Regions from separate parts of the Homo sapiens genome. Here region 1 is linked to region 2. Evidence: fine-mapped expression QTL. A gene starts in region 2. The other region holds a variant in brackets. All regions are shown on one strand. Distances are from middle to middle.

The links. PIP is the estimated chance that this variant, and not a neighbour inherited with it, causes the effect.
Region 1: its variant is the best candidate, but not a certain one, in a credible set for the expression of IL1RAP in whole blood (TOPMed, PIP 0.59).

What each region holds. Positions count from the first base shown.
Region 1 is chr3:190,620,308-190,624,307 of GRCh38, forward strand. It overlaps IL1RAP (interleukin 1 receptor accessory protein), which reads left to right. Exons shown (of 12, transcript NM_002182.4): 6 at 1-133; 7 at 3,037-3,108. Among named protein-coding and RNA genes, the nearest start is that of LINC02013, 77 kb to the right of the region's middle. The variant A/C (reference allele first, on the strand shown) is at 2,081.
Region 2 is chr3:190,511,970-190,516,500 of GRCh38, forward strand. It overlaps IL1RAP (interleukin 1 receptor accessory protein), which reads left to right and starts at 2,116. Exons shown (of 12, transcript NM_002182.4): 1 at 2,116-2,250. RefSeq lists enhancers at 1,463-1,552, 2,305-2,806, 2,807-3,306 and a silencer at 1,703-2,052.

The DNA of each region.
Region 1 (4,000 bases), 110 kb after region 2:
ATACCCGAAGGTATGAACTTGAGTTTCCTCATTGCCTTAATTTCAAATAATGGAAATTACACATGTGTTGTTACATATCCAGAAAATGGACGTACGTTTCATCTCACCAGGACTCTGACTGTAAAGGTAGTAGGTAAGCATGATTAGTGTCCAGTACACACAACAAGCATGTGATCATCTTGTTATGGTTTTTAATAGTTTATTACACACTAGTATGTAAATTGTATAAGAAAAGTGATTCATGTTTTTTGTTTACAGTACTGTCTCTAGAGCCTTCAACAATTCCATGCACATCGTAAGCATTCAGTAACTGTTGGTCAACTGAATGAATATGTGAATAAATGAATGAAGTAAAGGTAGTTTGGGGAGGGAAAGGAGCACCAGACAGATCTGTGTTCAAATTCTGTCACTGCCACTTATTAGAAACATGACGTTGAACAAGGTCCCTGTCTTTATCTGTACTCTGGAACTGCAATTGATTGAGAATATTTAAAAAAATATTCATATTGTATTAATGCAGTTTCAGGCAAGCAATAGAGACTCAGTGCAACACTTTTGTCAAAAGAATGTTTTACTTGGATTAAGTAAACTCTATTTTTCTACATACTGAAACTGCTGTACCTATTGCTGAAGGTATTTGCTGGCAATAATGTTCAACCATTATTTTGCACTAAGAGAATAGGGGGTGAGAAACTAGGAAAGTGGGAAAGGCAATTCTTAGACAGAGTTGACAAACTCCTAGCAAACCCAGAAATAGAGAAGTAGTGTCAGGATATATGGCTTTTGGGGATTACCCCTAAATACCACTGTGTCCAGTGTATTAAAAAAGATAGCATCTCTGGGTATTGTTTTGTCATACCCCATCTTTTAATAGATGGAAACATTAGGCTCACTGACAAGAAGTAACCTGTTTAGAGACACTCAGTGAGTTACTTGAAGAAGTAATTCTAGATCCCAGGTCTCTGCTCAGGGCTTTTTCTACTGGTCTGACATGATTTAGTATAAGTTAGCTACAAACAGCCTTTCATATAGTGCAAATAGTATTCAAACAATGTCGTAATCACTTCTGTTCTTTTTCTGCTTACTTTCTAAATAATGCTGAGTTGGGGATTAATTCATAAGAAAAAAACAGACTAAATTTTAAAAGTCAAATGAATAATGTAACCTTATATTCATCTTAGCAGTTGTTTCTAATATATGTGCTTAAAAGTATGCATTTTGGGGAAGTTGGGAATAAGCATACTTTGTCACTCTGATTAACAGATTTAAAAATTCACAGACAGATCTGGGCACTGGGGGCTTCTTTCTCAAATTTCAAGCAACACAAGTTTGTTGTTTTAAAGCTGCAAAGTGTTGAGTATTTATTATATGCCAGTAGCATATCCTTAATATATATTCCTTAGTTTATTTCTCATAGTGAAACTGCGATATGAGTTTTAATTATCCTCATTTTAGAGTTATGAAAAATTAGCTTTTCAAAAATTAGGAAAAACCAAGTAACTTTGCTTTTGCATTTTTATATGGTTAATATATGGCCAAATCAGGATTAGAACTTGGTTATTAAATCTTTGGAGCTCATACTTTTGAAGACAATACTAAAAACTCTACTCAATGTATTATTTTTAAAAAATTAGGAGTACTGAATATTATAAAGAGCAGCAATCTCATAAACAAACATTCAACTGGTAACTAGTCATCAAGTAGACTAATGTGCCGGCCTTAACATCATGATTGTGAATTTTCCATTGATTTACTCATTAATGTAATACTTATTTAACCAGCTTCCATACTAGACACTTTCGGTAATGTTGTGAAGAAATACAGAGAGAAGAAACAACTGACTAAGGCATGAAAGCAATTAGGTATTATGCAACATAAGACATCTATCTCATGTAAGCTTTGGAAAGCTTTGCTAAGCAATCCGACCTTAAGCATGGAGGGTATTTAGTATGTTTTATTTTTTTCTTTGTAAAGCAAAAACTATTTTTTTCTATGCTCAAAACACTTTTGTCACTAAATGTGTGGCTCTTCTATACAAAGTAATTCTCACCTTTTCTGAGGACATTAACTGCATGTCCTA[A/C]AGTTTAATTCAATTTGACACCAGTTATCCAGAGTTAGCACTGACCCCACAGGTGAAGGACTCCTTCCTAAAAGACTGCCCCACCCCCTACTTTAGATTCCAGTCACAAGCAATAGGTTCCCGCGTTACCCACAACTCTGCCTGAGTTGGCTACAAACTTAAGATTCCTACTACTTCTTCCTCAGGTTCTGTGATTTGGTATAACTGCTCACAAAACTCAGGAAAACCTTTTACTTACCCTTACTTTGTTATTATAGAAAATATTATAAAGGATTCAAATGAACATCCAGCTGAAGAGATACATAGGGGGAGTTCTGGAAGGGTCCTGAGTTCAGAGCTCCACCCTCTCAGCTTGTGGATGTCCTTACCAACCTAGAAGCTCTCCGAACCTCATTGTTTAGGGTTTTTATGGAGGTTCCGTCACACAGGCATTATTGAGTAAAAGGACTGGAAATTTCAGCCACACTCCCAAACTTCCAGGGATGGGTGAGAGGCTGGAGATTGTGTTAATCATCTATGGTCTTTCTGGCTACTAGCGCTCATCCAGAAGCTATATAGGAACCCTAGCCACCAATCATTTCATTAGCATATAAAATCCACTCGTTACTCCAGAGATTCCAAAGGTCTTAGAAGCTGTTGTGTTAGGAATTTGGGACTAGAACAATATTAAAACAATAGATGCTCCTATTACCCCTGTCACACAGGAAATCACAGGGGATTTAGGAGCCCATGTCAGGAACTGGGAGCAGTCATCAAACCTGTATTTCCTTTATTTTATGCTTTGCTTGTTTTAAATGACTGAAGTGCAGTAATTGAGTATATCTTGGACTATAGGCCTTCTCTAAAACAACTGACAAACTATGCCAGGAAGTTAGGCAAGATTCAGAGAAGAGCAGAATTTTTAATAAGGCTGCCTGATTTAACATCATCTCCCTTTTTTATTTCCTCTAACACAGGCTCTCCAAAAAATGCAGTGCCCCCTGTGATCCATTCACCTAATGATCATGTGGTCTATGAGAAAGAACCAGGTAATTACAGCTATGTCTCTGAATTTCACTTAGATTCTCTTAATTACAAGGAATAAAATGTCATTTAAGTTAATGCAAGAAAATAGACGACTGTTGTAGAGAAACACATGAATTGAAACTGAAATGTCAGAAACCAAAGCAGCTGTGGAGATCAGTTACTTCCCTGATCCCATGGGCAACTCTAGAATTTTTTGCTTCACTCTCGGTATCTGCTCCCTTCTCCCTCTGCTAGCCGTCTTCCTCTGCTGATGAGTGATTTCTGTTTGATGCAAACTTTAGCTTGCACAGGGCTTTGGTTTGCCAAGGCTGCAACATGGGCACAAGATTTAGACATCCTTCAAGCTCCTGCTCCATTATGAAAGGTCAGTGGTGGATCTTGAAGGCAAGACTGTGAATATAATAGCTAACAACTGATAAAACTAGTAGACATTGACGCAGAACACTATTGAATGCTTACTGTGGCTCTTCGGTTCTTCTTTTAGTTTCCATAATTTTTCATTATAGCCAAAAATCATTGATAACTGACCAAATACGGGATAACATGTTACTCTTTTGACTCAAAGCCTCCCACAGTTAAGTGAACAGGAAACTATAGAAAATTTTAACATTTTCTATGTTGTATCACTTACAATACATCCAGTCCAAACCCAGTGAGAGGTGTTAACCTAAATAACAACAAAGACAATAGCTCTCCAAAAAGAAAAGGATTTATTCAGGAATGAATTGCAGATAGCAATCCAGGAATATGAGTGCTATGGCATCCCATGCGGGAACCATAGCCATACCCAGAAAGCATAGGAACATAACAGTTTTGAAAGGCAAAGTGAGGAAGATTACATAAAGTTGTTCTGAAATAATTATCCTTGGTTATAAGAACCAATAACAGGGTAAC
Region 2 (4,531 bases):
TAATCCTAACATATCAACATTTTTTCACATTCCTTTCAATTGGTGTTCATCTCTCCACAACTTTTACTCAACCTTATTTTGTAAGCCTTTTTCTTTGTAGACATATTTCCATAATATGATAGTTATGATGCAAATATTTTATTCTGTGCGTAGACAGCGTTGGTTAACTAATCATTTTCATTTCCAACCATTTATATTGTGTTCAAACTACAATATACTATGAATATTTGTCTATATGATTATTCATCTTAATGTTATCTTCCTTAAGCTATGAGTAGCCCTTCAATGTCCGGGAATATACATCTGGTTCAATTCTGAATTACTAGCATCTGTTTGGCTTCTAGGTAGTACATGAGACTGAGTAGCGGCTGAGAGCATGAACGTCGAGTGTCTCTAGTCTCATTTTGTATTCTCCACTTGTAGGCCTGTAGCCTTGGTCAAGTTATTTAAATTCCCTTTATCTCCTTTATGAACTGGAGATAATAATAGCACCCTCCAGGTTGTATTGAGGGTTACCTGAATTAATATACACAAAGTCCTTATGATTGCACCTTTTTATTTTGTAAGCACTGTGTAAATGCTTCAGTGTACTATATATATATAAAAGTCTGTGCCCAGAATATATTTAAGGAATGAATAATAAATCAGAAAATGTTTTATTGTTGCTTCATACAGGTAACATTTTAAATTCTTTTGGATTATTTTCTCTTTGGTTCAGTGACAATGTTGTGAGCAGGTGCTGGGTCCCAGGTATCCTGAGATAAATAAAAATTTTGAGCAATTAATTTTCATAAGTGATGTCAAGAAGTAAAGTATCATGAACATTTCTATGGCTCCAATTACACTGATATTTCACCTTAGGAACTGAAGCTCCGCCAGGGCAGGGGCAGCCTCTGAGTTTCGTACTGCTGTGCACCTTTAGCAGCACGGGCACCTGCTGGTTTCATTTCCTTCCCACTCACCTGGGCCCTTTTCTTATTTCACATCTTTTTTCTCCTTTTCCTTAAATGCTTTCTCTGAATCTTGATTCTTGAAAATAAATTAGTAGGATTCAGTTAGGTAGGAGGAGGAGAAAAGAAGATGTGATGAGCAAGAAGATGTGCGAAGACTCGTCAGTCTGGTAGGTGGCTTTGGTTAGGGGGTTTCAGAAATGGGGACAGGTCATGAAGGGCCTTGCCAGTCAGGAAAAATCATGAGGCACTAGCAGTAGGAACACAGCAGAAGGTGCCTGAACAAGAGAGATGACTTAATGAAAGCCTTTATAACGCTTCCCGGGATATATTACAGACTACCATCTACAGTGGCAGAGGGCAGCTGAAGGAAGGCTCTTGCAAAAACTTGGGGAAATGGAAATGAATGAAGGCAAATATTTGTTTTGAGATTATTTCCTTCTATGTAACCTATTAGTTCTTTTATTCGTTCCCCATACATGTATTGAGTGCCTACTTTGTGCCAGGCACTGTGCTAGGCAATGGGTATATTACCAGTGGACAATACAGATTTAGTCTTGCTGTCATGTCCTGTTGCTTGCTCATATGAATGTCAGTTCAAGACAGCAAGAGCTCAGGACTGCGGAGATCGCATCTACATCCTGCCGCGCTCTGTGCCGGCACAGGGTGGTTGCGAAAATCGTGCAGTCTGAATTGATTCAAGGCCTTGCAGCATGATTGCTAAATACGTCGAGACAGGAAGAAAGGGCAGGGTGGCACCGATCTCAACTGCGAGAGCACGATCTTGCAATGAGCGCATGTGTGCGCCTCGGTGTGTAGTGAGGGGCGTAGCTTCCCACAGCGCCTGGCAGCGTGCCGAGCTGCGCTGCAGGACTAACCCTCTCCTTTCCCCGCGCGCTCAAGCCCGCACAGGCGGTGGCAGGGAGCCGAAGGGGCCGAGCGCAGCCTTGCATCCGTCCGCAGGCGGGCCCGGCGCCGCGCCTCCTGGCGGCGGGCGGGACCGTCCAGGACGCCGCCCCGCGGCCGCAGCTCCTGGAAGCCCAGAGCGCCGGTGGATCGCGAGCCAAGGCGGCGGGTGGAGCCTGAGCCGTGAGGCCGTGGCCAATCGCGCCGCTCCGGGGGAGGAGCCCCAAAGGGGGAAAAGAAAGTGCGGCGGAAAGTAAGAGGCTCACTGGGGAAGACTGCCGGGATCCAGGTCTCCGGGGTCCGCTTTGGCCAGAGGCGCGGAAGGAAGCAGTGCCCGGCGACACTGCACCCATCCCGGCTGCTTTTGCTGCGCCCTCTCAGCTTCCCAAGAAAGGTGAGTCTCGCGCCGCCGTGAGGGCTCAGAAGTCACCAAGCCGCAGAATCTCAGGGTAGACGGATTCTTAGAGATCCTATCGTTAAACCCTCCTACTTTACAGAAGAGGAAACTGAGGCACAGAACGAGGCAGCGGCTGGGATAGGTCATACTGCTAGTTAGGACTGGAGCCCGGATTCGAACCCAAACGTTCAGAGACCCATCTTTGCTTTGCAGGGATTTAAGTAACGCGGTTGTGGGACGTCTGCTCGTTGCCGCCCCCATCCTCAGCCCTTTGAGGGGTCTACCCTTGTTTTCCTCCTCACCGCCCCCTCCCCGCTACCACCCCCCGCCCCCATCTCCTCCTTGGTTTCTCCAGACCGCTGCTGGAAGCGCCGAGGACAGAAGGAAGCGGTGTGTCCCAGCACGCCCACTCGGTATCACGTCGCTCTCAGCGCAGAGCTGTGACAGCCTGGGAAAATGCTGCTTGCAGCCTCACTCCCTCTTCCCCTGACCTGCTTTCTCAGAAAGATGCCCCTTCAGAGGGTGTCGGACCAGCTTCTGGAGGAGCGCGGGGAGAGAGGAGCGAGGCCCGGGCGCCAGTGACCTCCTATGGTACTGTTTCTTCCCAGCCCCGGAGGAAGCGGAGCTAGTGGCCCTGTGGGGCACAGGGTGCCCCTCACTTGGGAAGAGCTGACTTCATGGAACCATAGAGCCCCTTCCCTCTTCTAAATACTGAGAGGGAGCAAGGAAGCTGAGTTAAAGAGAAAATCACAAACATAAAAGCAAACTTCGGCTGTTTCCTTTAAGAGCTAGCCCACAGCCTGTCTTCCCTCCACCTTCTGGTTGTGAAATTGTGAACCAGGGCGCCACGCGAAGCATTCTGCTGCTCTGCTGTACAGATCCCTGGTTTAGCTACTGGATGAGAAAGAGGACTTGAGTTTTGACTCCAGCTCTTCCATGTATTAGCAGTGTGAACTTGGGCAAGTTATCTCACCTTTCCGATACTGGGTTTTTCTTTTCTTTCTTTCTTCCTTTTTTTTTTTTCCAGCCAAAAAATGGAGATTTATAATGGTCACAATGAGCCCTTTGGGTAGTTGGAAGGATGAAATGGGATCATTCAAGTAGCATGTTTAGCACAGTGCCTGGCCTGGCATCTGGTTGGTTCAAAACCAATGGCAACTATTGTAAATATTGTTACATAGTAACCTTGCAGACAGTGGGTTTTCAGAAAGGTGATTTCATACCATCTTACAGAGGCATTTTAAAAAAATCTGTAAATGTGGTGTCTTTCTTCTTTTGAATTTGAGCAACTCTTTTATAATAAGAATTTTCTGAATGTTGTCCATATGTGATGTGGATCATGGATGCTTAGCTCGAAATGTAAAATTGATGTTTCTCGGTGATATGAATTTCCTACTAGTTTTTAGGTCAAACCTCAGGCCTGTGAACTGCCCTGATCTGAGACATCCTTTATTGACAAAGAGGGTCTTGAAATGGGTGAGAGGCAGAAAGACAAGAAGACAAAGTTGGAAGTTGCAGCTGTGTTACAGATTATTCTAAGCCTTCTATCCTTGCTCTCTTAGGTCAGTCGAGCAACCTTACATTTTTCATCTAGTATCAGAAAACAAACAAAATTCTCATATATTTCTTTTGGATTGTACAGAGATGCTGCTAAATGCAAACCTTTCTGGACACAAACTTGCCTTATTTAAACACGAACACACAGACATTCACATGCCCACACTAGTCTTCCTGTATTATTGGTATTTTAAAGTTAAATGGATTCCCTCCCACACCCTTAACCCTTCTCATGACAATTGATTTTATTCTGATGAACTTCATGCAATAATTTACTACTATCTACTGGCTTTGCCATGCGTCCTTAAATTGAGTGTCCAGCATTTGTAGTTGGCTGCCTCCTTCACAGGCCATAGCATTTGTATGCAGTATTGGTAAGTGCTTGAGAACAGAGTGTGATACATCTTGATGGAAGATAAGAGCCCAGTGGTGCCCACTTAAGTACCTCCCGCACCAAGCATTAGTAAAGGATGGGATCACCTGCTTCTATCAGCTTGTTCCATGTACATGCATTGTGGTGAGCTGGCTGGGATATGACTGAATGTGTGCCTGAGAGACAGGGGCCTTGTGGGGGAAAAGGAAAATGTTCAAAATAAGGTCAGATCATGAGGATGGAAGGGAGATTAAAAGCTAATTCCTTTGGTTCTGATTCTTCAAAGAAAGGTTGGTCAATTATACCCATATCTTCATACAGATTATTACTTGTTACCAAAACCATATA